4 linked regions of the Homo sapiens genome follow. The protein of the gene in region 1 interacts with the protein of each later gene in a biochemical or structural test. Each region holds a gene or a part of one and is shown on either strand. Other genes may lie near its edges. The genes, in order: DCN, TGFB2, FAM20B and COL6A1.

What was found.
Region 2: the proteins of DCN (region 1) and TGFB2 form a complex in vitro, tested with the Homo sapiens proteins (one study listed by BioGRID).
Region 3: of the proteins of DCN (region 1) and FAM20B, one has a biochemical effect on the other in vitro, tested with the Homo sapiens proteins (one study listed by IntAct).
Region 4: the proteins of DCN (region 1) and COL6A1 form a complex in vitro, tested with the Homo sapiens proteins (one study listed by BioGRID).

The regions. Positions count from the first base shown.
Region 1 is NC_000012.12:91,151,791-91,158,817, reverse strand, and holds part of DCN (decorin isoform a preproprotein), read left to right. Parts: intron 1-308; coding exon 309-522; intron 523-1,629; coding exon 1,630-1,743; intron 1,744-5,628; coding exon 5,629-5,722; intron 5,723-7,025; coding exon 7,026-7,027. UniProt on the Homo sapiens protein: May affect the rate of fibrils formation.
Region 2 is NC_000001.11:218,348,318-218,355,344, reverse strand, and holds part of TGFB2 (transforming growth factor beta-2 proprotein isoform 2 preproprotein), read right to left. Parts: intron 1-7,027.
Region 3 is NC_000001.11:179,063,885-179,070,911, forward strand, and holds part of FAM20B (glycosaminoglycan xylosylkinase), read left to right. Parts: intron 1-42; coding exon 43-214; intron 215-420; coding exon 421-612; intron 613-2,915; coding exon 2,916-2,975; intron 2,976-7,027. UniProt on the Homo sapiens protein: Responsible for the 2-O-phosphorylation of xylose in the glycosaminoglycan-protein linkage region of proteoglycans thereby regulating the amount of mature GAG chains.
Region 4 is NC_000021.9:45,984,744-45,991,770, reverse strand, and holds part of COL6A1 (collagen alpha-1(VI) chain precursor), read right to left. Parts: intron 5,246-7,027; coding exon 5,086-5,245; intron 4,828-5,085; coding exon 4,699-4,827; intron 4,617-4,698; coding exon 4,596-4,616; intron 4,273-4,595; coding exon 4,252-4,272; intron 4,162-4,251; coding exon 4,117-4,161; intron 2,688-4,116; coding exon 2,634-2,687; intron 2,164-2,633; coding exon 2,119-2,163; intron 2,020-2,118; coding exon 1,993-2,019; intron 1,514-1,992; coding exon 1,487-1,513; intron 1,394-1,486; coding exon 1,349-1,393; intron 999-1,348; coding exon 945-998; intron 793-944; coding exon 730-792; intron 1-729. UniProt on the Homo sapiens protein: Collagen VI acts as a cell-binding protein.

The sequences.
Region 1 (7,027 bases):
GCTAATTTTTGTATTTTTGATACAGACGGGATTTCGCCATGCTGGCCAGGCTTGTCTCGAACTCCTGGCCTCAAGTGATCCTCCCACCTCAGCCTCCCAAAGTGCTGGGATTACAGGCATGAGCCACCGCACCTGGCCTATACACTTCTTAAGTAAAGAAATAATACTTACTTAATTTTTTTCTGATTTCTTGCAATTTTTTAGATTTCTCTGCTATCCCTATGAATGGAATGAACAAACATGCCCTTGTTTTACATGTATGTGGAAGGTTTTGGATTTAAAGAGATGTTTTTCTTCACTATCTACAGGCATTGATTCTTGTCAACAATAAAATTAGCAAAGTTAGTCCTGGAGCATTTACACCTTTGGTGAAGTTGGAACGACTTTATCTGTCCAAGAATCAGCTGAAGGAATTGCCAGAAAAAATGCCCAAAACTCTTCAGGAGCTGCGTGCCCATGAGAATGAGATCACCAAAGTGCGAAAAGTTACTTTCAATGGACTGAACCAGATGATTGTCATAGGTACAGACATTTTTATAACTTTAAGACCAAAACTCAAGTTTTTATCTTAAGAGATTTCAACTGGGTTTTAAGTGCAGGAAGGTAAATTAGCTACAAGCTACATGCCTGGAGCCTATGTGATTTATAAGAACAGGGCCAAGAGAAATTGGGATTTTGAATCTGGACCTTACAGTGATGTTTTTATGTATGTCCTTGAGTATCTGAGAATATGGAGAAAACCCTAGGGCTGAAGTTACCCTACCACACACACAATATGCAAAGATGAGTTTAAATAGTGCTTAACTACAGATATTTTGAGATACCTTTCCGTTTTGGGGACCTGTTGTATTCTAAACACTCATAAATCATTTGCTTTAAAAATATGTTATGGCTGGGCGCGGTGGCTCATGCCTGTAATCCCAGCACTTTGGGAGGCCGAAGCAGGCGGATCACGAGGTCAGGAGATCGAGACCATCCTGGCTAACATGGTGAAACCCCATCTCTACTAAAAATACAAAAAATTAGCCGGGCGTGGTGGTGGGGGCCTGTAGTACCAGCTACTCGGGAGGCTGAGGCAGGAGAATGGCGTGAACCCGGGAGGCGGAGCTTGCAGTGAGCCGAGATGGCCCCACTGCACTCCAGCCTGGGTGACAGAGTGAGACTACGTCTCAAAAAAAAAAAAATTTCTCTAAACATATAGTAAAAATTGTAATTTTATTATTGGCTTATAAAATGCTAGATTGAAATTCTTTAACAAAATTTTAAAATACCTTAGGAAAATAATAAATAACGTAAGATGGGAATTGTAAACTTGCTTTAGTTGATTTCTGGGCAAACCTGTGTATGCATCTTAAATAATTTTATTGGTATTGCTTTCACTAATAGTCTTTTTCATAAGTCATTATTATTCATAAGTCATTGTCTGTTTGGCTTTTGTTTTAATAAGGGAAATTTTTATCCTATTTTGCTATTCTCCTGAGGAGCATGCTCTTTAACTTCACTTTTGTTTTTTAGTCAAGTTGATATTAATCCCTATTTCTTTATAGGTTGCTTGCTGAAACAGATACTACAGTGACTAGTAATATCCTAAAATTTCCTCTAAAAGCCTTGCACTTATTACATTTGTAGAACTGGGCACCAATCCGCTGAAGAGCTCAGGAATTGAAAATGGGGCTTTCCAGGGAATGAAGAAGCTCTCCTACATCCGCATTGCTGATACCAATATCACCAGCATTCCTCAAGGTGATAGAAGATTCTCCAAAACATTTTGAAAAATTTAAATTCAAAGGCTTTAATTAAAAAAAAAAAATCTTGTGGAAACTGGAATTGTCACCTAAGAGGCCAACCTTATTTCCAGCAAATTCTCTATTACTGCTAGTGTTTCATCCAGTGTTTATATTTCCAGCAAATTCTCTATTACTGCTAGTGTTATATCCAGTGATTCAGTCTGGATGACCACGGGGCCATCCAGGCTCACTGTAGAGATGGGTAGACTCCTGTTAATGTCTAGTTTAAGACACAACTTAATGCACAGTGATTTTATAATATTGTAAAATCACAAAGAAAAAGTACATTTATTTAAAAAATAGCATGCCTTGGTGTTTGTAAAAAAAAAAAAAAAGATATATGGGAGTACCTCTGAAATTGATCCAATTTTTATCTTGAGTCTGCAATAGCTTAGGGAATTTTTTTTTCCTTTTTAAGACACTCCAGTTATTAATATCTGAATGATAGTGGTAGTTGTGTGTTGTGAAGAGTGTAGATTTTGGAGTCAGTTTGCTTGAGCCCAAATTACCATAAAGTGGTTCAAAGACTTTGAAAAAGTTATTCATTTGTCCTCTATCTCTTTATCTGTCAAGTGGAAATAATACTGCTATCCACTTCATTGAGTTGTTTTAAAGTTAAATAAATAATTAGAGAAATATTTAGCATATAGATAAGTAGGGAATTAATATAACTCTCTATTATGCATTAAAAATGTTCTGAACAATCAGTATGTGTAGGCGATGTACCAAACACTTAAGACAGGGCAGGGAACAGGATATGCTACATGCCTTTAGGAGCTTACTCTCTAAAACCAAGCCAGACAAATACACAGCAATGACCACATAGCCACAAGGGTAAGTTCATTGTTCCAAGGGATTCCCAGGAGAGGCACAAAAGCCAGTCTTTGTGAATTACAAAAGGCATCAAACCACCAATAATAAATTCCTCTAACTTGCACATCGTCCCTACTCTGGGTTTTTCAGTCTCACAGAAGCCCTCTATATTATCTAGTTTTCCCCTCAGTCTGTCCCTTTCTCAACTTAGATGCCTTGTTCTTGAGTGCGTACAAAATGTAGACATTTGGCCACAGAAAACACCAGTTGTCCTTTATTGTTCTTTTACAGAAATTTCAACTCCTGAGAGTACATATTCCATAGGATGCTTTCTTACCACCCCTTGCCCTCCTCCTAGTCTTTTGAATACAGAGCATGCTTTTGACTTCCTTAGTAGCAACTACTGGCATAGATAGATACATAGATGATAAAGACTGATTTATAATTCATAAAGCACTTTCATGTTGAGTCTCCAATTTTTTGCATGTAACAAGTAATCTTTTGCTATCCCCAGTGCAGGAATGAAATATTTATATCTCAGATAGATATAAATTGGGGATTGATATAGATAGATAGATAGATAGATAGATAGATAGATAGATCTTATTAAAATTCTTGCTGAAATTTATTTCATGCAGCCAGATGACTTACATTTAGCACAATCTCAGACTTTGCTGTCCCTCTTAATGCATGCTCCAAAATATCCTTCACTGATACCTTTTATCATTTCATGATCTCTTTTCCTTTACTTTGCTATGTCTTCTATCTATCCCAGGTATTCTTTCCTCATCATTTATAGCTTGCTTTTATTTACTACCGCTTAATAGAAAAGTTAAGTAACTACAATTTATTAAGCATGTATTTAGTTCCGGGTATCATGCCAAATGCTTGTCATGGAGTCTTCTATATGATTCTTACAACGTCCCTATATAGTAGGGTTATAATTCCTGTTTCATAAAAGTGGAAAATGAGGCTTAAACAGGTAAAGAAAATTGTAATTAAGTTCTTAGAGCTAGGAAGCGGCAGAGATGGAATTGTGTGGTGCTGATGTCAGAACTCGTGTGTTTAACTATTTCACTCTGTTGGCATATTAAGTCCTCCTTTCTATTCATCGTTATGCTTATCTAATACATGATTCCACCTTGCTTAGGCTGGGATACCTATGCCTGAATATCAGCAACCTCCTGGTGATATTTTCTCCCATCACTCATGGAAATGGAAAGGCAGTAGAAAGTAGTGTAGAGACTATAAAAATCATACACTTAGATCAACCTGGGTGAGAGACCTAACTCAGTCATTTAGTTGTACTGTGACTTTAGGATAATTATTCTGCATTTCTATAACCTCAGGTTTGTTAGATGTTACATGGAGCTATTAATAACCCTGTCTACTAGGATTATTGTGAGGATTACTCTATAGAAGTAAGGCTTGTATTGTACACGCAAGTACTTGGCCCAATGTAAACCTCAATATATTTTATCTTAAAAAAGGAAAAGAAAAAAGAAAATTTAAAATAAATGAACAAACAAATAAATAAAATAACTGGAGTATGGGTTCTTTAACTCAATGCCACAGTTGCAGAAGCTAATGATGCACTTTACAAATTTGTCTATCTCAAACCTATTGCAAGGTTTTCTCCCATAGTCAAACTTCTTCTTAGCTATAACTTTACATTTGGGAAACTGACATCCCAAAAAGGGAGACACTTTGAAACTAAGTAAGGCCGATGGTTGTGATAGCAATTGGTGTACTGGAGGCACTGCATTAAAAAATATACATTTTGCATTACTTTGTAATTACTTTGTAACTTTGAGTCTTATTTATTTAACTGTGAAAAGGGATTAGTGACCAATAATTTATGTTTTGAGAGGCTTAAAGGATTTGAAGTAGGAAAAGTGCCAAGGTCAATGTTCGGTGCGTAACAGACATACAATAAATAGATGTTCCTTTTCCTAGCAGCTCTAACACAAAATATGCTACCATAGGAAACTAAGAATCATTTTCAAGTCAAATATGGACTAAACTATTTTATTAAATGGACAATATTGACAGAATTCAGTGTGATGTGATAAAAATTTTAGACAAAATGAAACCTGTGGTTTTTCAATTCTGTGTCTTTATAGACAAATAGCCAAGACTTTCTGCCAATCAGATGTTCTTTCTACACTTAACCAATTTGCTATTTTCTCTGTATCTATTGCTATTAAGTGGAACAATATGTTATTTTAAAAGCTGTATAAAATATAATACAGCCTCAGATGCTAGGAGGAAATGAAAATAAAATATTTAAACTTTTATATTTATAATACTCGATCTTTGGAAATCACAGCCATGCAAGTACTATCTAGAGGTTTAGTGGGTACTTTGGATGTAAAATTATTACCCCAGGTGCTCCACATATGGCAGATCACTTGATTATAGACCTCTCCACTCCTTCTGCATAAACATTCTGGATTTAATAGGCATAAGTAAATGTTAGCTGTTTCTACACAGACATTTTGCAGAGGTATTTGATGCTTTTATGGAAAAGTCAATTAAGGCTAAGACCAGCACAGTATATCAGTGTTAATTTTTAATGATGCTCATTAATGAAATAGACAATTAAGTTTGTACATGGGTTTAATTTATACGTAATCTCTTCATTATGGTTCGAATAGTGACTTTCCCACTTTATAATTACTATCTTTTATCAACGTCAGTTTTAGCCCATTAACAAAGGTGGAAGAGAATAATGAGACTCAGCGTTGACTTCAGTTCTTCTATTCCAAGAACAAAAATTGACTACATGATAGAAATCATCCAGGTTTTTGTTAAAGTCAACCTAAGAGAAAAATAGCAAGGGCTTCCACTACTTCCAAAAGCACACATTATTATAAAAGGGATGAAAAAAAAAGATAAAAGTAAAGCTGATTCTTTGAAACTGTGTGTCTTTTAGAAAATTGATGGCATATGTCTTCTTTAAGTTTGTCCACATTCTGTACTTATAATGTTTATCTGCTAATTTAACATCTTTAATTCCACATTCCAGGTCTTCCTCCTTCCCTTACGGAATTACATCTTGATGGCAACAAAATCAGCAGAGTTGATGCAGCTAGCCTGAAAGGACTGAATAATTTGGCTAAGTAATAATATTCTTTCATGACATTCTATCAGAACAATGGCTAGGTATATTAGTGCTTATATGATAAGAATTATAAACATGATGATTGATTTTTGAGTGTACTACATTTCACTGCTGTTGTTGTTTCTATAATCTCAAACTTCAGCATATCCAATTATTTCTTGAGAAGAAGCCAATGAAATAGTGCCCTTACTAAAACCACCAAGATCAGCTTCATATTTTATTAATACTATACTGTTTATAGATTAGTTATATTTTATACACAAAGTGTGTGATTAAATCAATATGTGCATTTAATATGTTCTAACTTATTTGCATCAAACAGAAAGTTAAGTAAATTATAACACAGTTGCTAGAATTTGAAAATCCATTAAAATGAAATCTACCAAGACAGAGAAATATTGAGCATCACACAAATTACTATTTTAATAATTATGAGATTCTCTAACCCCCTCTTCTCTGAAAAGTTTAAAATAAAATATCTCTGGGCATTTAATGTAGATCAACAAAAGAAAAGCTTTTGTTGTTGTTGTTTTTGCTGGCCCTTCTTAATGATTTTTTTTAAAATAAGTGATACTAGTACTTGTCCTGGTTTCAAACATAACTTCAATCTGGCAAACGTTTTCACTTGTCTTCAAGGAACACTATGTTCTTTTTGATCTGTACATATTGCTGACTGTCCCTACAGAGAAGCACACTATCATGCCAGATTTACTCATTCCTGTTGTTATATATAAATTTCATGGTGGATAAATAAATATAAAATATATCTTTGAATGTGTATATATATATATATGCATGTGTGTGTGTATAATCAACTCCTTTACTAGGTAAAATATTCTTTGATGGGAAAAGTGGTTTTTGATCCATGAGACCTCTGTCCCTCACAATGCCTAGCATAATATCATGCACATAAGTTTTCAAGAATATTTGTTTATTAAATATACAAATAAATGTTTGAATAAGTGAACAGTTTTTAAAAATAAACTATTAGGAATATTATGTTCCAATATTATGGTTGACCATAATTTGATGTTGGAACTTAGGATATTATAAGGAATAGGAGACTATGTCCAATCACGTTCTGTCAGATGAATCTCAAAGACAGTAACTTTGAGCCGAGACCTTAACAATAAATGGACTTTGTCCAGGCTCAGAGAGGTTGGAGAAAGCACTCCAAGAACTGGGAAGAGTAAGTGCAAAAACAAAAAATGTCCTTTCCTATAGACTTGATTAACTACACAATGCTTGTAAGAAAGGCATCCATGTGTGGTGTTTGCTTTCATTTCTGCTTTCTGTTGCAGGT
Region 2 (7,027 bases), on another chromosome or scaffold:
TCTGTCCAGCTCCAAAGTCATCATGCTCATTGTATATCATCTTGCCTTCCCAAATAAATTAATTCTCTGAAATAGGAATGCCCTATCAATAAAATTTATCAAAATTTTTGTGAGGAAAATGATTGCAGTTCAAAAACAAAACCAAGGCTGGGCACGGTGGCTCGGGCCTATAATCCCAGCACTTTGGGAGACCGAGGCGGATGGATCACTTGAGATCAGTTCGAGACCAGCCTGACCAACATGGTGAAACCCCATCTTGACTAAAAACACAAAAATTAGCTGGGCGTGGTGGCACATGCTTGTAATCCCAGCTAGTTGGGAGGCTGAGGCAGGAGAATTGCTTGGACCCGGGAGCCAGAGGTTGCAGTAAGCTGAGATGGTGCCACTGCACTCCAGCCTGGACAACAGAGCAAGGCTCTGTCTCACAAACAAACAAACAGAAACAACCAAAGTCTTAATAAATCACACTTTTTGTATCAATTAAGTGCAGAAATAAAAGTTGAATGTGTTAAGAGGCAAGAAAAAAAAACCCAGGTTGTGTGCTTCAGAGGTATATTTTCTCAGTGCTTGTGAATGTAATTCTTGTTAACAGAGGAGAGCCACCATTCTTCCATGGATGTATTACATCATTTATCAAGAAGGCAAGAAAGGTCATGCTCTCTATTTCCTGGGCTCTGTATTAGGGCTCCTATTACCTGTGGTGGCTGAAAGTCTAATTTCCATAACACATCACTAATAGAAATAGCTATTTCCATTTCCTCAGCTGTCAAAGGGACAGTATGAGTATTAACCTCATAGGATTGCTTGTGAGTATTAAAGAGTACATATATGTAAAATATTTAAAACTATGCTTGGTTTATAAGTCTTCAATAAAGGTTAGCTATGCTTGGCCTGTAAAAAGTCCTCAATAAAGGTTAGCTTTAATCATCATTATCACCACCTTCATTATTATCTGAGAATTGGAAACAGAAAATATTATGGTTATGAGAATCCCTGTGCTCTTTAGCATAGTGACATGACCCATCAGACACATTTTCCCTGATAATGAAGGTCAGAACATTTCATCTCTCCGCATCTCCTGGCCCTGACACCTCTTTGAACTCACAGATTCTTCTTCTTCCTGTAGTTCAATCTCATTCTGTAAAGGGAATGCTCATCCATTTGTCAAACATTCCTTGATCAAACACAATATGCTAAGTTCTATAAGAATATAGATAAGTTAGACTTGATTTCTGTTCCTGGGGCAGTCTACAAACCAATGAAGAAGACAGCCCAGAACAGAGTTAGATCTTACTAAGATCAAAAGAAAAGAGGGAGAGATAGAGATAACCATCAGTATAGTAAGAGTGCAAAGGAAGAGCTAATTAAATAAGACTAGGACAATCAAGGAAGGTTTTCTAAGGAGGTGGCATCTGACTAAGCCCAGAAATATTTTGTTTTATTTTGTTATGTTTAGAGACAGGGTCACGCTCTGTTGCCCAGGCTGGAGGACAGCGGGGCAGTCATAGCTCACTGCAGCCTCAAACTCCTAGGCTCAAGCAATCCTCCTGCTTCAGCCGCCCAAGTAGCTAGGACTACAGGCACATACCACCAGGCCCAACTAAATTCTCTGTAGAGACAAGATCTTGCTATGTTGCCCAGGCTGGTCTTCAACTCCTGCCCTCAAGTGATCCTCCCGCCTCAGCTTCCTAAAGTGCTAAGATTATAGGCGTGGGCCACCACACCAGGCAGAAGGATTTTTAAAGGTGTGAAAAGATAGATCTCTATGTAGAAGAAACAGCATAAACAAAGACCCCAGAGGCATGAAAATAAATGGCCCATTTGGGTAAAGGCAAAGAGGACAATGTGACTGGAGTATAGTTTTCATGCAGGGATTTAGTGAGAGGAGGGGCTGAGCAAGGAGGAGGGACCAGACCCTGAAAGGCCTGAATCTAATTGCCTAAACTCTCAGGCCTTCTCATAGGAGAACTGGATAGTGCCAGACATGGTGAATTACCAACCCTATGTTCTCTGTTTCCAGCCCCATCCCATCCCTGCCCTGAAGTGTCAGAGGCCACCTAAGGAACAAACTGAGTGAGCAAAGGAAAGAGATCCACTGAGTGGAACTATCGCAAAGGAAAAGAATGAGCTGGAGGTTCCAAGACATCCGAGGTTAATGGAAGTGGTTCCTGGGGTATCGCTCATAATCACATTTTCATCTCCCTAAAATCCAGACCCTCTCTTAAAATCAATGGCATGATCACTGAAGTGATATTTTTTTCTTAGTGGCACATAAAATAATGGTATACCCTGAAGTCAAAGGCATTTGAGACTCAGAGAATTGCTGCCAGGCAAAGAAGACCTACTCCATGCCAGAGCAGCTGCACTAGGTGCTTCTTCACATATGTCATCATCAATCCTTACAACCCTAGAAGGCCAGTGTTACTTTCTTCATCTTTACAAGGGAAGAAACTGAGGCCTGGTTAAGTAAAGGGGGTGCTGTCTCCCACAAACTCAGTAGAGTATCAAATGGGACATGATATGTGAGCACTCGACCATCCATCCATGCAGACATTCCATCACAATGAAGGAAAAGAAGGCAATTTAGAGATGGTAGGGAAGAGGCCAAGGGGCAGTTTCATTCAGAGTCAAGACCACCAAGCCAATTCAGGAAGTAAGGTAGTGGTGAGAGTGTGGGGCACTTAAACACCCACTTCTGGATATCAGCGCTTAGAAAAGAAACAAAACAGCCAACCATCAAAAGCAGCTTGTGGTTGTAGCATGATGCAAATTTATTCCAAACAAATGACAGAAGCAAACTTTTCAGTCTAAACAAACCCATCAAAGAATCCCCTAACATATTATTAAATCTAAAATAAAATACCTGGAGAACGTTGAATTCCCAGGTTAAAAACTATCATTGTTTAAAGGATATTTTTTAAAATGAAAGCACACATATGCCTTCAAAATGACAATGGGCATTTGTTTATCTCGGGCAGAGCCACATTTCATCAAGCTGTGCAGAATCTGCAAAATGGAATCCACCCTTGAGCAGAAGCGCTGCCTAAATAGAGCAAGCACATCTGGCAAATCCAAATCCTCTCTCCGGGAGCCCATCAGTACCGGAAATGCTACATCAAGATAGCGGAAGGGGCTATTTCCAGAGCTCTTCCATGCAGTCTCTTGCTCGGCTGCTCACCTTACTCCTGAACCTATAATGGGGCGGGGTGGGGTGGGGGTGCTGTGGGCAAGGGGCAGGGGGAGGCGGGCTGGAGTGGCAGTGGGCCAGAGTCCCACTCCAGTGGTGACCCTGCACACCTCTCCCAGGGCCAGGAGCCTCCACTCTAATTTCTCGAACCTTCTAAATATGCAGCCTAAAGTGTGTTGTAATCTCTGGGCGAAGGCCTACAAGTCAGTGAACTCCTTGGTTCTAACCCAGATTTGATGTGGGTTCAACAGTGAGTCATTAGCCCTTTTTTCACATCTCAGTTTCCTCTAGGAAAAACGATCTGTCATTCTTTCATATCTTTATATGAAAGATGCTGCGACTAGGTTACATCACCATCTTTTCACCAGGGAGAAATCATTCAAAAAGTGCAACTCCTCGAGTAGACCACAGGGGTTGCTGTGGAGACGCAGTGGGCTCCCCCAACCCCTTCCTTCTGTGAGGTGGAGAGGTCCCCACCTGCCCCTCAACCTCTGCAAAGCCCCTCTTTCATCGGGTGGGGTCTCCTCAGGAGAGGCATAAAGCTGGCTGGCCTCACTTGGCAACAAAGACGACCCAACTGCTTTCGTTATAAATAGTATACTTCTTTGAGAGGTTTTTCTAGTCTTTGAAAAGTAAAAAAAAGAGGAAATCCTGAAGGAGGAGCATGTGACCTAACTTAAATGTAACCACAATTAGACACTAGAGTTAGTACAAGCAACGATGCAATAAAAAAGGGAGAATTAAAGTTTGGTCTGTTGTATATTAATAACTCAATCATTCTGGAAGTCAAGAAGTTCAAGTCTGTCTTTGATACGCTCTCTTTTTCTTTCTGTTTCTATCTCATACACCCACATGCAAACACACACATAGAGAATCCTAAAAAATAAAATAGTAAAAATGCTTACTACATAAAGCAAAAATACCACTACGTTCCAGCAATCGCTAACATTTTCCTTCATTGGGCAAGTGGCCAACAGACCAGCAACTTGTATATAGAAAGACATATTCATGAATTGAATGCTAAGTCACATTCCCCAAAACCATAGTGTCATTGGTATTCATTCTACATTCCACAATTTAACTTGGAAAATTACAGAGGAAATAGAAAAGGAGATTGCTTCATGTTAAATGTTTAACACTCATGTGAAACAACTACAAAGGGAATCTCATTGTGATTTTTCAGGCTGTATATTTTTAGTGTATCTACTTCAAAATGGTAGAATAAATCAAGATGATTATTTACTTTCTTCCATTGCCTAGCTTGGAGATTCCACTCTTTGTTAACACAAACTGCTTATTTCCCTTGCAAGGGGAATCCATGATAATTCCTCACTTCTTTTTTCTCTGTTCTAACATCACACTGCTGCTGACTGAAGCTAGTAATGGATAGGTCAACACCATCACTTAAGCTAAATAAATGGGAAGTTTTGATGTCTCTAATTTAGGGGCTTTAAGACCACAAAAAATAAAGTACATACTGTATACAATGGTCTAATCCACACTCCATTTAATTAAGATAACTGTCTGACTATCCTCCTATTCAGTATTCTCATTTGAATATGCTTTGATCATAAAGATATTTTATTTTTGTTATTATTTTCTAAATGGTACTGTTAACAGAATTCAGTAACCCCCAACAAATACCAGGGCTCCTCAACAGAGGCATTACTGACATTGTGGTCAGGATAATTCTTTGATGTTGGGAATGGGGGGTTGCCCTATGCATTATAGGATGGTTAGAAACATCCCTGGCTGACCCACTAAATACCGGTAGCACCCCTCCACCTCCAGTCATGACAACCCAAAGTGTCTCTGGACATTGCCAAACGTTCCAGTGGGAGTAGGGGTGCGGGTGTTGGGGGGAGTACAAAATCACCAGGGTTAGAACCACAACATGTGCTGATTGGTTACAATGAAAAAGGGAGAGAAAAGAAAGAAAATGAAACGTTGTGTCTCTTCCTCTTTTTGATTGTCGGACTCTCTACAGATTCTTACATGTCAATTATTTGAATTCTTCCTGTGTATAACTGAATCACCCTTTCTAAGTTTCTAAAACCTTGTGCAGCATCTTTCGAATAGATGTGCCTCGAACTTCAAATGGATTGTTAAACTACTAGAGGTCCACTAATTCCCAGTGGGCAAACTATCGGTAAACCTTAGCATAACTCCACTTCGAGTCTTAAACTAACAGCACGTGAAAAGATCAATATGAATAAATTCAAAACTAATCAGACCCCTTCTTTAAATGTTGACACAGTATTATTTATATCCCATAAATACATTCTTGACTAAAATTCATCCTAGGAGATTGGCACCTGGCCAGTTCTATTCATATTTACTGTATTTATATAGTATACTTGGCCAAGGATAATATTTAAGACAAAATATGCCTCAGGGCATATACAATATCTCTTATATTTTTACTTTTAAATCTCCACATTGCTAAAAATATGTAGTCTGAACTTTATAAAATGTCCCACAAAGGGCTATCAGCAATCTGTAATGATATATAGCTCATTGAGTATAATTAGAGCATATTTGTAATACTTGAGCTGAAGTCACTCCCTGAACGCTAATAAGTTGATGGTAAAAAATGAACCAGTGATCTTTCCCATGGCTTCATCTCTGGGGCTTATGACCCTCGCCAGATTCACTGCAAGGAATGACAGGCACACTCCCTCCCCACAGCCACTTCAGTGACAGCTGAGTTAAAAGTTAGGCAGAAAAGTCCTAAAGAGGGAAAGCTGGTATATAAGCCAATGCTGTACTTTCAATTTGCTTTTTAAAAATATGGTTTTTTTCTTTTTTTCCTTTTTTTTGGAAGGGTTTGCTATATTCCAGTATAACTAAAAAGTGCTGGAAAATCAGTTAACCTATTTTCTATAAAATTATCCAGTCCTTGCACAGTAGTATCGAACCTGCTATTAATATGGCTTTCTGCTCCTAAACTTCCATACAGAATACAGACTTTTTAAAGCCTGTATTCTTTGTATGAAAACTGGCAGTATATTTTATTTATCTTGGACGTATCGGAGGTTTTCATTTATTTGGTGGCTGGGGTGAAATGGAAAGGAGAATCCACACATTGATGTTAAATGCCATACTCTGAAATCCTCCTAATAATCTAGGAATTTTTCCAGTTTGTTGATGACCATGACCCTGGGTTGGATCATCTCAGCTCTTCAGACTGAAGTGTGCTTCAGAGAACAAAGAACTAATGCCCTCTTGGGTTACTTGCTCTCTCCACACCTATTCAGTAAATGGGATCAGAGCTCCTTTCTGTGTTATAGAAGTGCTGGCAGTTTATTAGACCTTTTGCATATAAACATTGAAAGATGAGTTATTCAGGTTCTACATAACATACTTTCCGCTCTGCCCAAATACCGGTAGAACCGATGCACATGCTAGAGAAAGCAAACTGACTGAACTCCTTGTTTGTCTCAATGGTTTTGGACTAATTACAATGAACTTTCTTTCCTAATATCTCCTTGGCTCCACCCCAGATAGAAAGCTTTACTTCCCAAAGGGGATAACCAGGGGTGGAGTGTATTTATCACCGCTGTTGCGGATAGTGCCATAATTACAATAATAAAATCATCCTGCTTGCCAGAATTCTCTGCATCTGTTCTGCTATTGAACAAGAACAGGAGAAACTGCAGCAAAATAAGGGTCACTAGGAAGACTGGGGTTAGATACATGGGCTGACTTCTGAGACCATCAAGTACAAGACATGGCAGGTCACATAGCTAGGACTTGTCAAACTAAAAATAAATATTAAAAAAGAAAAGCACCACCCTGCAACTAGAACCTTTAAGAGAAAATTACCAAGATGGCTATATT
Region 3 (7,027 bases), on another chromosome or scaffold:
CGTTATTTCCTTAAGTGTATTTGGCTCCTTTCTGTCCTTTAGGAAACAATACTTGTTTTTATGGGAAGTGCTATTACTGCCGAGAAACAGAACCAGCTTGTGCTGATGGAGACATAATGGAGGGATCTGTCACACTTTGGCTTCCAGATGTGTGGCCTCTGCAGAAGCACCGTCACCCATGGGGCAGGACTTACCGAGAAGGCAAATTGGCCAGGTAAATGCTCCTATGAGCCATTACTTAATTCTCCCCTGTGCCTAGCCAGGTGCCAACTCTGTAAAGGAGCCAGCAGTTCTGTCCAAGAGTGAAAAGAACTGTGGAGTCAGGGGCAAACCGGTAGGTAGGAACTCTGTCTTCTCTTTGTGTGTAACAGTGCCAGGTACAGTGTTGTCACTCAGTGCTGTGATGCTGCTTGTCTCCAGGTGGGAGTATGATGAGAGCTACTGTGATGCTGTGAAGAAAACGTCCCCTTATGACTCTGGCCCGCGCCTCTTGGACATCATTGACACAGCTGTCTTTGATTACCTGATTGGCAATGCTGACCGCCATCACTATGAGAGCTTTCAAGATGATGAAGGCGCTAGTATGCTCATCCTTCTTGATAATGCCAAAAGGTGAGACCAGCAGGACTGTCCTTGTCAGGGAGGGGTTTCTGTATATGAAAGAAGGGCATTTTCCAGAGCATCCTGGAGAATATCCAGAATGCAATTGATAGGCAACATCCTTCTTTTTTCCACTTGGAGTCTTTGCTATTGGTACCTGTCCTTCTCTCCACTCTCAGGGATCTCAGTACTTCAAAAAATGGAAAAGTGGTTCTTCCAAGGAGTCTAAGACTCTATGAGCCTCTTCTCAGACAACTGGAAAACCAGGGTTATTCATTTGTTACTACCTACATCGTTCTTTCTTGGCTATGATATTTGGTGTTTAGAAGCTTGAGAAATACAGATGTAATAGAGTGTGGAATTTGTCGTTAAATTTATTCTATCCAAAGGTTCCTGCAATTAAAAAATTAATTTATTTGGTAGGATGTTTTGCTATTTTTGTGTTTGTCTAGGTCCATACTTTTGCTGTCATGGGAAGAAGAGCTGTTGCCTAGTGTGGATTTTATATATAACAACAAGTTACTTTTATCTTGAATAAAAAATGTTTATTCATTTTGAATAAATAGAATGTCCTTATTTTTTTAGGCCTGAGCTATTTGGAGAGCACATTGTATTTCCATTTCATATTCTGCATTCTCTGTGGTGGCCGGTTTAGTGCCACACTTTTTTTTTTTAAGTTTTTTTGAGACGGAGTTTTGCTCTGTTGCCCAGGCTGGAGTGCAGTGGCACAATCTCAGCTCACTGCAACTTCTGTCTCCTGGGTTCAAGCGATTCTCCACCCTCAGCCTCCTGAGTAGCTGGGACTACAGGCACTCGCTAATTTTGTATTTTTAGTAGAGACAGGGTTTCGCCATTTTGGCCAGGCTGGTCTTGAACTCCTGACCTCAAGTGCTCTGCTTGCCTCGACCTCTCAAAGTGCTGGGATTACAGGTGTAGTGCCACACTTTTAGTTGCATTTAATAAATATTTACTAAATAGAACGCTTCCTTGGAGTACAGAATTTTCCAGGCCCTAGGTCACTACTGTTAACATTGGTTGTTGGAAATAAGCTAAGACATGGCTCCTCAGCAAAGAGTGCTTGGGCAGCATTTGCTAATGATGCCACCATCTTATACTGAACACCAGGCGCCTCATGCTTTGTGAAAGATGGTGATGGCCACAGAAAATGAAAAACCAGCAAACACTGCCTCTCCCTCTACCCCATTACAGCAAAGCACATAGCACTCATCCTGTGATACACATGATACTTGATATTTGGTGTATATCAAAATAGTTGCTTTGTCCACTCGGGCCGCTATAACAAAATCCCTTAGACTGGGTAATTCATAAGCATCAGAAATGTATTGCTTACAGTTTTGGAGGCTGGGAACTCTAAGATGAAGGTGCCAGCAGATTCAGTGTCTGGTGAGGGCCTGTTTCTCAGATGGTGCCTTCTATGTGTCCTCATATGGCAGAAGAGGTAAACACGCTCCCTCTGGCCTCATTTATAAGGGCACTAATCCCGTTCATGTGGGCTCTTCCCTCGTAACTTAATCATCTCCCAAAGGCCCTACTTCTTAATACTGTTGGACTGTTGTACCAGGGATTACGAATTTGAGGGGGACACAAACATTCAGACCATAGCAGTTGCCTTTGCCTTGAATTACTGGAGGACCTACACTGTACTAAGGGCTACCAGACTCTAGCTATTAAGGTGAGCCTCTGGAAAGATTGAAAGGTTGACAGTTTTCCAGAATCAGTTCTCCTTTTCTAACTCTGAATTGCTGCTAAGGTAATTTTTGCATCTGCTGTGAATCAGTTTCCTCAGCCTGTGTGAACAGTTTTTCCAATTTGAATCTGTACTTATACTTACTTGTAGGGAATAGGATATTGCTAATTTGGGAGTAGAATAAGTGTGACTTCTTTTTACAAGTAATGGTCATCTGCTTGTTTGTGGGAATCTAATATAAATGGCTTTTATTTCTCTCTGGTCCTTAAAACCTTTGCAGGCTTAGGGGTCTTCAAGTTCTCCCTTTGGTCTGTGAACTCCGCACTGTGTTTACCATAGTTATGCTCCAGCACCTTGTGATATCTTGGCAGGAAAATGTCCCTTGTAAATGAGTATATTTGTTGTCAGATATTTTAGTACAGGCTGTTAGGGATCCTGTGTCTAATTGGTCATGCCCCGCTTGTTTTCAATTTAAGTGATTTGAGCTGCTGGAGCGTGAAATTATCTAGGATCACATTTGAGTTTCATATAGAATTTGCTATTGCTTTGATGCTAAGAAGAGAACAGTACTTCCACCTAATTCACTAAGTTTTAATTTAATTTTCAGCTTTGGGAACCCCTCGCTGGATGAAAGAAGCATTCTTGCCCCTCTCTATCAGTGTTGCATGTAAGTTATGCACAGCAAATACATGTGCCTGCATTGCCTTCTTTTCCAGGCTCAGGTAACAGTACATCCATTTTCTTGGCCCTCAAACTTTCTGATACCTGAGCAGTGCTTTTCATACTTTTCCAACCTAGAACCTCTGGACATCCTGAAATGGGATATCAGGGAAAGGTGAAGGCAGATAACCCAAAGCTCAGAATTCATCTCAAATTTTGTATGAATAGAAGATTGTATGTATACAGTAATACATGTTTGGTTTAATAGCAGAATATAATCACCCACACTCCCCACCCCACTGCCAAAAAAAAAAAAAGGAGTAAAATCTGTATGCCTGGTTACTACACCTGGTTACCTTGTGGTTTTAACTCCTCTCACTCACCCATCACATACCACCTGGGGTTTACATATTTCAGTTTGAAATTGTCTAAACCAAAAGTAACTTTTTCCATAAATAATAATTTATTTTGGCCAGGCACAGTGGCTCACTCCTGTAATCCCAGCAATTTGGGAGGCCAAGGTGGGTGGATCACCTGAGGTCAGGAGTTCGAGACCAGCCTGGCCAACATGGCGAAACCCCGTCTCTATTAATAATACAAAAATGAGCCGGGCATGGTGGCAGGCACCAGTATTCCAGCTACTTAGGAGGTTGAGACAGGAGAATTGCTTGAACCTGGAAGGCAGAGGTTGCAGTGAGCCGAGATTGTGCCATTGCACTCCATTCTGGGTGACAGAGTGAGACTCTGTCTCAAAAAAAATAAATAATAAATAATAATTGGTTTTTTTAAAAAAACTCTGTATTAGAGAACAGAGAAATTGAAAAATGAGTCAAGAAAATGAGATAAAGTCTAAGCTCTAAGAAGCTTCTTTTCATCATTCCTGAAATAATTTTATTTTACTATTTTATTTTTTATTTTATTATTTTTTTGAGACAGGGTCTGCATCTGTCACCCAGGTAGGAGTGTGGTGGTGCGATCTCAGCTCACCGAAATCTCTGCCTTTCGGGTTTAAGCAATTCTTGTGCCTCAGCCTCCCGAGTAGCTGGGACTACAGGCACCTGCCACCAAACCCAGCTAATTTTTGTATTTGCAGTAGAGACGGGTTTCACTATGTTGGCCAGGCTGGTGTCAAACTATTGACTTCAAGTGATCCGCCTGCCTCAGCCTCCCAAAGTGCTAGGATTACAGGCGTGAGCCACCGCGCCCGACCATCCTGGTGTAATTTTAGAGCACGCACATCAAGAATTAGCTGGGATCCACCTTGCTTGGCTACACAGAAAAACAAGTTCAAGAGCACCATTTAATACTGGTCAGCTCCCAGCAACATCATATCACATAAGACTGCCATAGCAACTGGTCTCTTAATCTTCTTTCTTTTTTTAAATGACAACAAAATTCTGTAGAAAGTAACAGTTTACCCAGGCTGTCCTTCATTGTCTTTATTAATGATAGGAAGCAGTGATATATACAATCAAGAATTGTGTGTTTGTCTTTGAAGATGTTTTTGTGGTAGTAGTTTTATCAGTCTGGTTCAATCAGGAGATAGCAAAGACATAGTGTGATAAACAGAGGTGTTTAATATAAAGAATTTTTTTTTTTTGGAGATGGAGTCTTGCTCTGTCACCCAGGCTAGAGTACAGTGGCGCGATCTCGGCTCACTGCAGCCTCCACCTCCCATGTTCAAGTGATTCTCCTGCGTCAGCCTCCCAAGTAGTTGGGATTACAGGCGCCCCTCACTGCATCTGGTTAATTTTTGTATTTTTAGTAGAGACGGGGTTTCACCATATTGGCCAGGCTGGTCTAGAACTCCTGACCTTGTGATCTGCCTGCCTCGGCCTCCCAAACTACTGGCATTACAGGCGTGAGCCACTGCGCCCGACCCAATATAAAGAATTATTAAATTCCAATAACAGGAGTGACTATAAAAGGGCTGAGGGAGAGTACCCAAGGAAGGACAAACTTGGAAGGGGATCCCCTCCCAATGACTGGAGTTTGGACTTCAGTGGAGAAGGTTTAGCTCAGCCCACCAGATAGCAGAGAAGTTTGCTAGTTTGCAGGTGCTGAGCAAGCCAGAAGCAACTCTCCAGAGTGCAGGTGGGGTGTACATTCAAGCCACAGCTGGTGTCATGACATGCAGAAGGAGAGAGAGAATCCAGTAGAAACCTTCTGTGCTGCAAGTGAGGCACACACGTGGGCCTTCAGAGGGAATTGGGGCCAGGGTGAGCAGATGGCCTTCAAAGCTCTGGTTTCCATGTTGAGAGGGCCTCGGGAGAGTTATCCCCAGGCCAGGCTAAGGCTTCAGGTCACCAAGGACCCACACCTTCTGGGAGTGTGGCTAGACAGGTCTTCAGTGGATGACCTCTCTGCCTCCCCAACACCACCATTGACCCACAGAAGCATTTGGAGAGCCCCTTCACCCTGCAGTGTCCCCTTTGCGCCCTCTAGTGAGAATGCTTTAGGGGAAAGATGCTTAAAGGAATCCCATCCGTCGTAGCAGAGCACATTTTGTTTTTGTTTTTGTTTTGTTTTGTTTTTTGAGATGGAGTCTCGCTCTGTCGCCCAGGCTGGAGTGTAGTGGCACGATCTCGGCTCACTGCAACCGCTGTCTCCCGGGTTCAGGCGATTCTCCTGCCTCAGCCTTCTGAGTAGCTGGGATTACAGGCACCTGCCACCACGCCCAGCTAATTTTTTGTATTTTTAGTAGAGATAGGGTTTCAACATGTTGGTGGGGCTGGTCTCGAACTCCTGACCTCAGGTGATCCGTCCGCCTTGGCCTCCCAAAGTGCTGGGATTACAGGCATGAGCCACCGTGCCTGGCCAGCAGAGCATATTTTGAAGAGTGAATTTGGAGCTGAGAGGAAGTAACATAATAACTTAGTCTCACAGAGGAAGCTCTGATGCTCTGGGCATTTGTAATATATTTAAGAATAAAAATAACTGTACTCCGTCTGTGCCTGTTTGTCCCTTCCATGCATGCTTTATGCAGCAGTCTTTCTTACCTTTTAAATTGCTGCACAACAGGCTGCCTTTTACAGAATCAGACATTTCTGCATACCCAGTAATTCCTCCTTTACCCACAGAGAGCTAAGAACTTTTCTTCTCAGATTTTAAATAAAAGATATGCTATAGTTGGTGTCTTAGTTCGTTTTGTGCTGCTGTAACAGGATACCACAGACTGGGTAATTTATTTTATTTTATTTTATCTTATTTTGAGATGGAGTCTCGCTCTGTTGCCCAGGCTGGAGTGCAGTGGCGCGATCTTGGCTCACTGCAACCTCCGCCTCCCAGGTTCAAGTGATTCTCATGTCTCAGCCTCCCAAGTAGCTGGGATTACAGGCATGTACCACCATGCCCGGGTAATTTTTGTATTTTTAGGAGAGATGGGGTTTCACCATGTTGCCTAGGCTGGTCTCGAACTCCTGACCTCAAGTGATCTGACCCCTTGGGCCTCCCAGAGTGCTGGGATTACAGGCATGAGCCACCATACCTGGCCAGACTGTGTAATTTATAATGAACAGAAATTTATTGGTTCACAGTTCTGGAGGCTAGAACGTTAAATATCAAGGTGCCAGCATCTGACAAGGGACTTATTGCTGTGTCATCATGTCACATGGCAGAAGGCAAAAGGGCAAAGAGAGAGGGCAACAAGGGGCTGAACTCGCCTTTTTTTTTTTTTTTTTTTTTTTTTTTGAGATGGAGTCTTGCTCTTTTGCCCAGGCTGGAGTGCAGTGGCACAATCTTGGCTCACTGCAACCTCCACCTCCCGGGTTCAAGTGATTCTTGTGCCTCAGCCTCCCAAGTAGCTGGGATTACAGGCACCTGCCACCACGCCCAGCTAATTTTTGTATTTTTAGTAGAGACGGGGTTTTACCATGTTGGCCAGCCTGGTCTTGAACTCCCAACCTGAGGGCCCACCTCGGCCTCCCAAAGTGTTGGGATTACAGATGTGAGCCACCGCTCCTGGCCTTGAACTTGCCTTTTAATAACAGCATTAGTTCCACCCATGAGGGCAGAGCACTCATGGCCTAACGACCTCTTAAAAGACTCTACCTTGATACT
Region 4 (7,027 bases), on another chromosome or scaffold:
GATTTGGTTCCCATTAGAGAAGGCACAGCTTTGCCAGGCTGGCAAATTGGCAAACTCAAATCTAGGGCCTGGAGGGTAATCTGGGAACTTGAAGATGAGATTTGGAAACCGTCTGCTGGGTTCTAGGAGCTCGTCTGGGAATGTTTGGGGTGGGGTCAGCATTCGCCTTTGTCTTCCCCAACACTTCAGCTTCAACAAAGAAACTCCAGAGAAAACACCAGCAACGGCAGACTCAGCTGTCAGACGAAAAAGCTCCTTCTCCCGCCTCGTGCTCCCGCCCTCCCGCTGCCCACTCGCCCTCCCACCCGCTCACCACCCTCCTCCCGCCCCCGCTCACCACCCTCCCGCCCACTCGCCACCCTCAGTGCCACCCAGCCCATTCTCAGTTCTGAGAGCCATTCTGGGCTGCGGCTCGCAGGCTAGGAGTGACGCGGTGGGGTCCCATCTGTGCCGAGCGAGCGGCAGGTGCGGGGGACAGAATGGCGGAGGCCTGAAGGCCCTCGGGCTGCAGGGAAGGCTCTGGGCGGGAGCGCCACGGCCACTGTCCCCACGGTGGGCACTGTCCCCGCTGCTCCTCTGCCTGCCTCCAGCCTCCACCAGCTCCTCCCCTCTGAGGCCGCACGGGTGGCCGACATGCTCGGACCAGGACTTGCTTCCAGGAGAGGTTTCCAATTCAGCGCTTGGCCAACCGTGAAGGCCCTGGTCCTCCAGGGGCCGCAAGTCACTCACCTTTTCTCCTTTCAGTCCAAAGGCACCGGGGTCTCCCTTGGGGCCAGGGGGTCCTTGAATGCCCTGGAGAAAAGAGGGCAGCATGACACCACCGGCAGAGGCCACCGCGGCCTCTGGCAGCAGCCCCAGACCGCCCAGACAGAAGTCAAAACGGTCCACACGAGGTGCTGCTGACAGCGCTAGTTTTAAAGTATCAGTGAGAGGAAGTGACTTACGTCAAACCCGGGCGAGCCCTTGCAGCCTGGCAGGCCTGGGTACCCCATCTCCCCCTGGAAAGAGGAAGAAAACTAGAAAATCTGACGGCCAAGTGGGTAAACTGAGGCCAATCAACTGTCAGACTTGGTGCCCTCCATGCCCTCCACACCCTCCCTGGAAAGCCCTGCCTAGCAGACACCCCCCTGGGGTCACCTTCACACCGTCCACCCCACTCCTCCCTGTCCCTCCTGCCGGGATCACCTCACCCCATCCCTCCCCGTCCCTCCCCGTCCTTCCCCTGGTCACCTTCACACTGTCCACCCCATCCCTCCCCGGGTCACCTTCACGCCGTCCACTCCGTCCCTCCCCATCTCGCCCCATTCCTCCTCGTCCCTCCCCGTCCATCCTATCTCCCCCCAGTCACCTTCACGCCGTCCACCCCGTCGATGCCACGCTTGCCCTTCTCTCCCTGTGAGGCGGGAAAACGAAGGCAGGAGTCAGATGCAGGTCAGACATGCTGCCGTGGGGGCAGAACTCCCCCCTCCCAGCAGCCCACGCTCACCTTGTAGCCCTTGGGTCCCCTGGAGCCCTGCGGAGACAGGAAGCGGGTGTGAGGGGGTATTTGGGGTGGGGAGGGCAGGGCAAGCCTGGCTTAGGCCCACGCGAGGCAGGGGCTTGGGTGCCCCCAACCCGAGGGGACAACATCACTGCTGAGAATCATGGGGACTGACAGTGATGGGGAGGGGCCGCTCTGCAGAGGGTAACCGCCCGGGGGACCCCCGGCTCCGCAGAGGGTAACCGCCCGGGGGACCCCCGGCTCCGCAGAGGGTAACCGCCCGGGGGACCCCTGCTCTGGGGTGGGGTGAAAGTGACACAGGCGCCTTTGCTGGGTGCCTGGGTGGCTGTCCTTGTCCTTCCAGATGGAGGGGACGGCGAGGGGCGGTGGAGCGGGTCTGCAGGACACGTGGTCTCCTGTCAGGGACACTGTCCTCATCCCCGGGGACACCCTCGTCCAGGATGGCACATCTGCGCCTGGAGAGACCAGCTCCGAGGTCGAGCCTCACTCACCTTCTCCCCACGGCTCCCTTTTTCTCCCTACACACCCAGCGGAAGAAGAGGAAGAGGAAGGCTTGTTAGTGCTGTGCAAGGCTGAGGGCACCACCGGGCTCGGGCCAGGAAAGGGGGGGCACGTACCTTCATTCCCTGGTACCCAACAGGTCCGAGGTCCCCGGGTCTTCCCTGGAACACAGGAGGAGATGGTGAGACACCCCCGGAGGAGCAGGGGCAGGGGCCAGTCCCACCCAGCCCCACACCCCTCCCTCCAGCCCAGGCCTGGTCAGGCCGAGAGAGGGGCCCTGCTGCACGGGGCCCATGGTGCCGAGGCCCTCCAAGGTGGAGCTGGGGGAGGGAAGTCTATGGATAGGATTTGGGCCAAGGAGCCACGGCAGGGGCCCCGGACGGTGCCGGCCTGAGCACCCTGGGCCACCTCCCCACCCAGCCCCTCCCTGGCAGGGGGGCTTACGGGCTGCCTGGGGGGCTGTGTGGAAGGATGGCTGGGCTGTGGCCCCTCCAGGTCTGCTCCCACCCACAAGGAACAGGCAGTGTGACTTTGGCACTCAGAACCCAGCCACTCTTCCGGAAGTTTCCGAGGCCTAGTCGTTCCCCGCCTCCAGCTTCTTAGGGCCCCCACCCCACAGTCAGGCACTCACAGGATCTCCGGCTTCTCCCTTCTCTCCTGGGAGCCCCGGCTTGCCTCGTTCTCCCTGGAACACAAAACAGGTCAAGGTTGGGGCAGCCCCGTTTCTTTCTAAAAAGCTGGCTCACGAAACAGGTTTTTAAAAAGACGCTTCATCCAGCCTTCAGGGATCAAGGGCTTTAAAGCACCTTCCCCATCACATCTGGTCAGCCTGGGTCTGGGAGCTCCAACCCGCACGCCAGCTCCCCCCACTCCCTGCCTTCGTTCCTGTCTGCTCGGCTTTGCTGACCCCCAGGCACAGGTGGGAGGGACGTGCAGCACAGAAGCCCCCCAGGGTCACAGCTCGACCCCCAGGAAATGGCCATGGGACTCGGGCCCACAGCTGCTGGGTTTGATGGTTTTTAGGAGAAGCCAGAAATCTGAGGTCCATGAGCAGCCTCATGGCAAGTTTTAATTATCAGCAGCTAATTCTAACGTTTAAGGTCATCCTATGTGAGCCACACAGAAGCAGGGGACCCACATTCTCACCCTCCTACCTCCAGAAAGGTCCTTCTGAACAGAGTGCGGCTGAGGGCAGGGCGGACAGAGACACCCTCAGAAGCCCCCAGCGCCCCCGGGACAGTCCACACCCTGCACGGCCGGAGCCTGCCTGCTGGACCCCGCCGTCCCTTCCATCTGGACCCCGACATCCCCTCCATCTGGACCCCGCCGTCCCCTCCATCTGGAGCCCCGACGTCCCCTCCATCTGGACCCCGCCGTCCCCTCCATCTGGACCACGCCGTCCCCTCCATCTGGACTCCCGCCGTCCCCTCCATCTGGACCCCGCCGTCCCCTCCATCTGGACCCCGCCGTCCCCTCCATCTGGACCCCGCCGTCCCCTCCATCTGGACCCCGCCGTCCCCTCCATCTGGACCCCGCCGTCCCCTCCATCTGGACCCCCGCCGTCCCCTCCATCTGGAGCCCCGACGTCCCCTCCATCTGGACCCCGCCGTCCCCTCCATCTGGACCACGCCGTCCCCTCCATCTGGACTCCCGCCGTCCCCTCCATCTGGAGCCCCGACGTCCCCTCCATCTGGACCCCGCCGTCCCCTCCATCTGGACCCCGCCGTCCCCTCCATCTGGACCCCGCCGTCCCCTCCATCTGGACTCCCGCCGTCCCCTCCATCTGGAGCCCCGACGTCCCCTCCATCTGGACCCCGCCGTCCCCTCCATCTGGACCCCGCCGTCCCCTCCATCTGGACCCCGCCATCCCCTCCATCTGGACCCCGCCGTCCCCTCCATCTGGACCCCGCCGTCCCCTCCATCTGGACCCCGCCATCCCCTCCATCTGGACTCCCGCCGTCCCCTCCATCTGGACCCCCGCCGTCCCCTCCATCTGGACCCCCGCCGTCCCCTCTGGATCCTCATGGTGGACTTGGGTGCCCAGGAGGCTTTGGTCCTGCCACCCCCACTCCCAGGCCCCACAACACATGGGAGGAGCAGGAGTCACCACTCACCTCAAAGCCGGGGTCGCCCCGGAGCCCCGGAGGTCCTCTTGCAGGCTGCAAGGCAGAGGGGACGGTCAGCCAGGACCCCAGACTCAGGTTCCCAGGGTGCAGGGCGCGGGGTCAGGGGTCGGGGGGCACACTCACCTGGCATTCGAAGGAGCAGCACTGTGGGGGGAAAGCATGGAGACGAGTCAGTGGGAAAGCCACGGACATACGGCTGGGACACAGGGTGACATGCGACCCAGGCACATGGGCAGACGGACACACGGATGGACGCACAGGCGGACACATGTCCCAGGCACATGGGCAGACACACAGGTGGACACGCAGGGGGACACACATCCCGGGCACACGGGCAGACACGCAGGGGACATGTGTCCCGGGCACATGGGCGGATATGCATAGGGACATGCGTCCTGAACACACAGGTGGACGTGTGGGTGGACGTGTGCAGACTCACGGCTGGGGGTGGTGGGGAGGGCTCTTACCACTTGCTCCACGTTATTTTTCTGGAAAGAGAAATGGAAACGCAGAATTACTTTCCACCTGCGGCCGCCGCGGGCCTCCCCGTCTCCTGGGCAGGGGCCTCACGATCATGTCCACGATGGTGTCGATGGTCTGGCTGATGGCCTCCTCTGCGTCGCGGCTCTGGCCCCAGTCAGCCGCCGTGAAGTTGCGCCGGTACGTGTGGTCCGTGGCGATGATGCTCAGACGCGGCTCCTGGGGGCAGTGTTCAGGGTGGGCTGAGCAGGGCTGGGACCCCTGACGGCCGGGGCCGCTTCCCACAGGGCCAGAGGGGAGGCTGGGCTGGGGCGCTCCAGGCTCCTCAGCAGGAGGGGCTGGCCTCTCAGGGGCAAGGGTGGCCGGCTGGAGAACCCACACCCTCCCGAGGACCAAAAGACGGTCCCAGCTGCCGGGGGCCTTGCAGCCGCCACTCCCTGTGGTTGGGGGCATCTGCCGGGGGGGGCCGGTGCCTACCAGGTGGTCGGGTGTGATGGCCACCGAGAAGACTTTGACGCCCAGGTGCTTGGCCTCGTTCACAGCATCCTCCAGCCCCCCACAGGGTTCCTTGTAGCCCTCCAGGGGGTGCCCGTCGGTCACCACAATCAGGTACTTATTCTCCTTCAGGTGGGAGCCCCTGGACAGGAGAGGGCAGCGTGAGACCTCGAGACTAGGTGGGGGAACTGGAGGGAGACCCAAGCCTGTCCGGGAGGTGCTGGTCCCTGTCTCACCGGGAGGAGCCGCCTCTCTTTGCTGATCCTGGCTATACGGTGGGGGTTACTGAAAAGAACCTCACCATGGGAAATAACGCCTGTGGGTCTCATTTCTCTAAACTGCTTTGGAAAATCCACGCCCTCCCAGGAGAGGCACCCATGACCCCAAAGGAGGCTCGGTTCCTGGGGTGCCCTGGGGCGCAAAGCCCCTGACCAGTGAGTGGAGGCTGAGGGTGGCAGGGAGCGTGCCCCTCCGAGATGCCCGCCGCGTCTACCCACAAGCTGCCTCAACTCAAGGCTGCTCGGTCACCGTGGCTCTTGCAGGAAATGGGTGTGATGAGCAAACAACAGGGCGATCCCTGAATGCCCCAAATCCAACCCCCCGAAAGGGAAAGTGGGAGCAGCAGGAAGGAGGGCAGTATCGCAGGGCAGTCGGGCAGCCTGCTGGGGACGCTGAGCATCTCGGCCAGAAGGGCGAGCTCATTTAGGGGAGTCGTGTCTGTCTGTGGCTTCCACAGGGGGCCGCACTCTGACGTGTGTGGCCACATCCCCCATGCACCCCCTGCAGACAGCGGACGACTTCCTGAGACTCCAAGTCCCCCAGGTCCCAGCTTGGCACCAACTCTGGAGGGAAGTGGGCACAACCATTGGAAAGGGAATGTCCGGCCCACACCGGCCATGTGGCCCTCTGAGACCGACCTCGGGGAGAGGCTCTCCCCAAACCCCCCGCACCGCCTGGCTGGACAGGGCAGCCTCGGGTACCCCCACTGGGATCCTGAGGCCTCGTGAAGGGCTGGGTGTGGGGAGGCCACGTTCCCCTCTGGACACTCCGGGGCTTGCGGCCCCTGCGTCCCCACAGCTGGACACTGGGATGAGAGGAAACCCCTCAGTCCAGAAAAACCCCGAGAAAGCGCATGCTTCGGGTCTGATGAGTCTGTTTCAGTGATCCTAGCCCTGCTTGGTGTTGATGCTGTGGGGAAAACCACCCCGTCTCTCTCAGTCTCTCAGTCTCTCTGCCTCTGTTTCCGGTCTCTCTGTCTCTGTCTGTCCCTGTCTCTCTGTCTGTCTCTGTCTGTGCTTCTCTCTCTGTCTCTCTGCCTCTGTCTTTGTCTCTCTCTCTCTGCTTCTATCTCTCTGTCTCCCTCTCTGTCTCTATCTCTCTGTCTCTGTCCCTCTGTCTCTATCTCTCTATTTCTGTCTCTGTCTCTGTCCCTGTCTCTGCTTCTCTCTGTCTCTCTGCCTCTGTCTGTCTCTGCTTCTCTCTGTCTCTCTGTCTCTGTATGTTTCTGTCTCTGTTTCGCTGTCTCTGTCTCTGTCTCTCTGTCTGCCTGTCTCTGCCCCTCTGTCTCTGTCTCTCTGTCTCTGTTTCTGTCTCTGTCTCTGTCTGTCTCTGACTGTCTTTGTTTCTCTGTCTCTGCTTCTCTCTGCCTCTGTCTTTTTCTATCTGTCTCTGTCTCTCTCTGTTTCCCTCTGTCTCTCTCTCTTTCTGTCTCTGTCCCTGTTTCTGTCTCTCTGTCTCTGTTTGTCTGTCTCTGTCTCTGTCTCTCTGTCTCTCTCTGCCTGTCTCTGTCCCTCTGTCTCTGTTTCTGTCTCTGTCTCTCTCTGTCTCTGTCTGCCTGTCTCTGTTCCCGTCTCTGTCTCTCTGTGTCTCTCTCTGTGTCTCTGTCTCTGTCTCTGTTTGTCTCTGTCTGCCTGTCTTGGTCCCT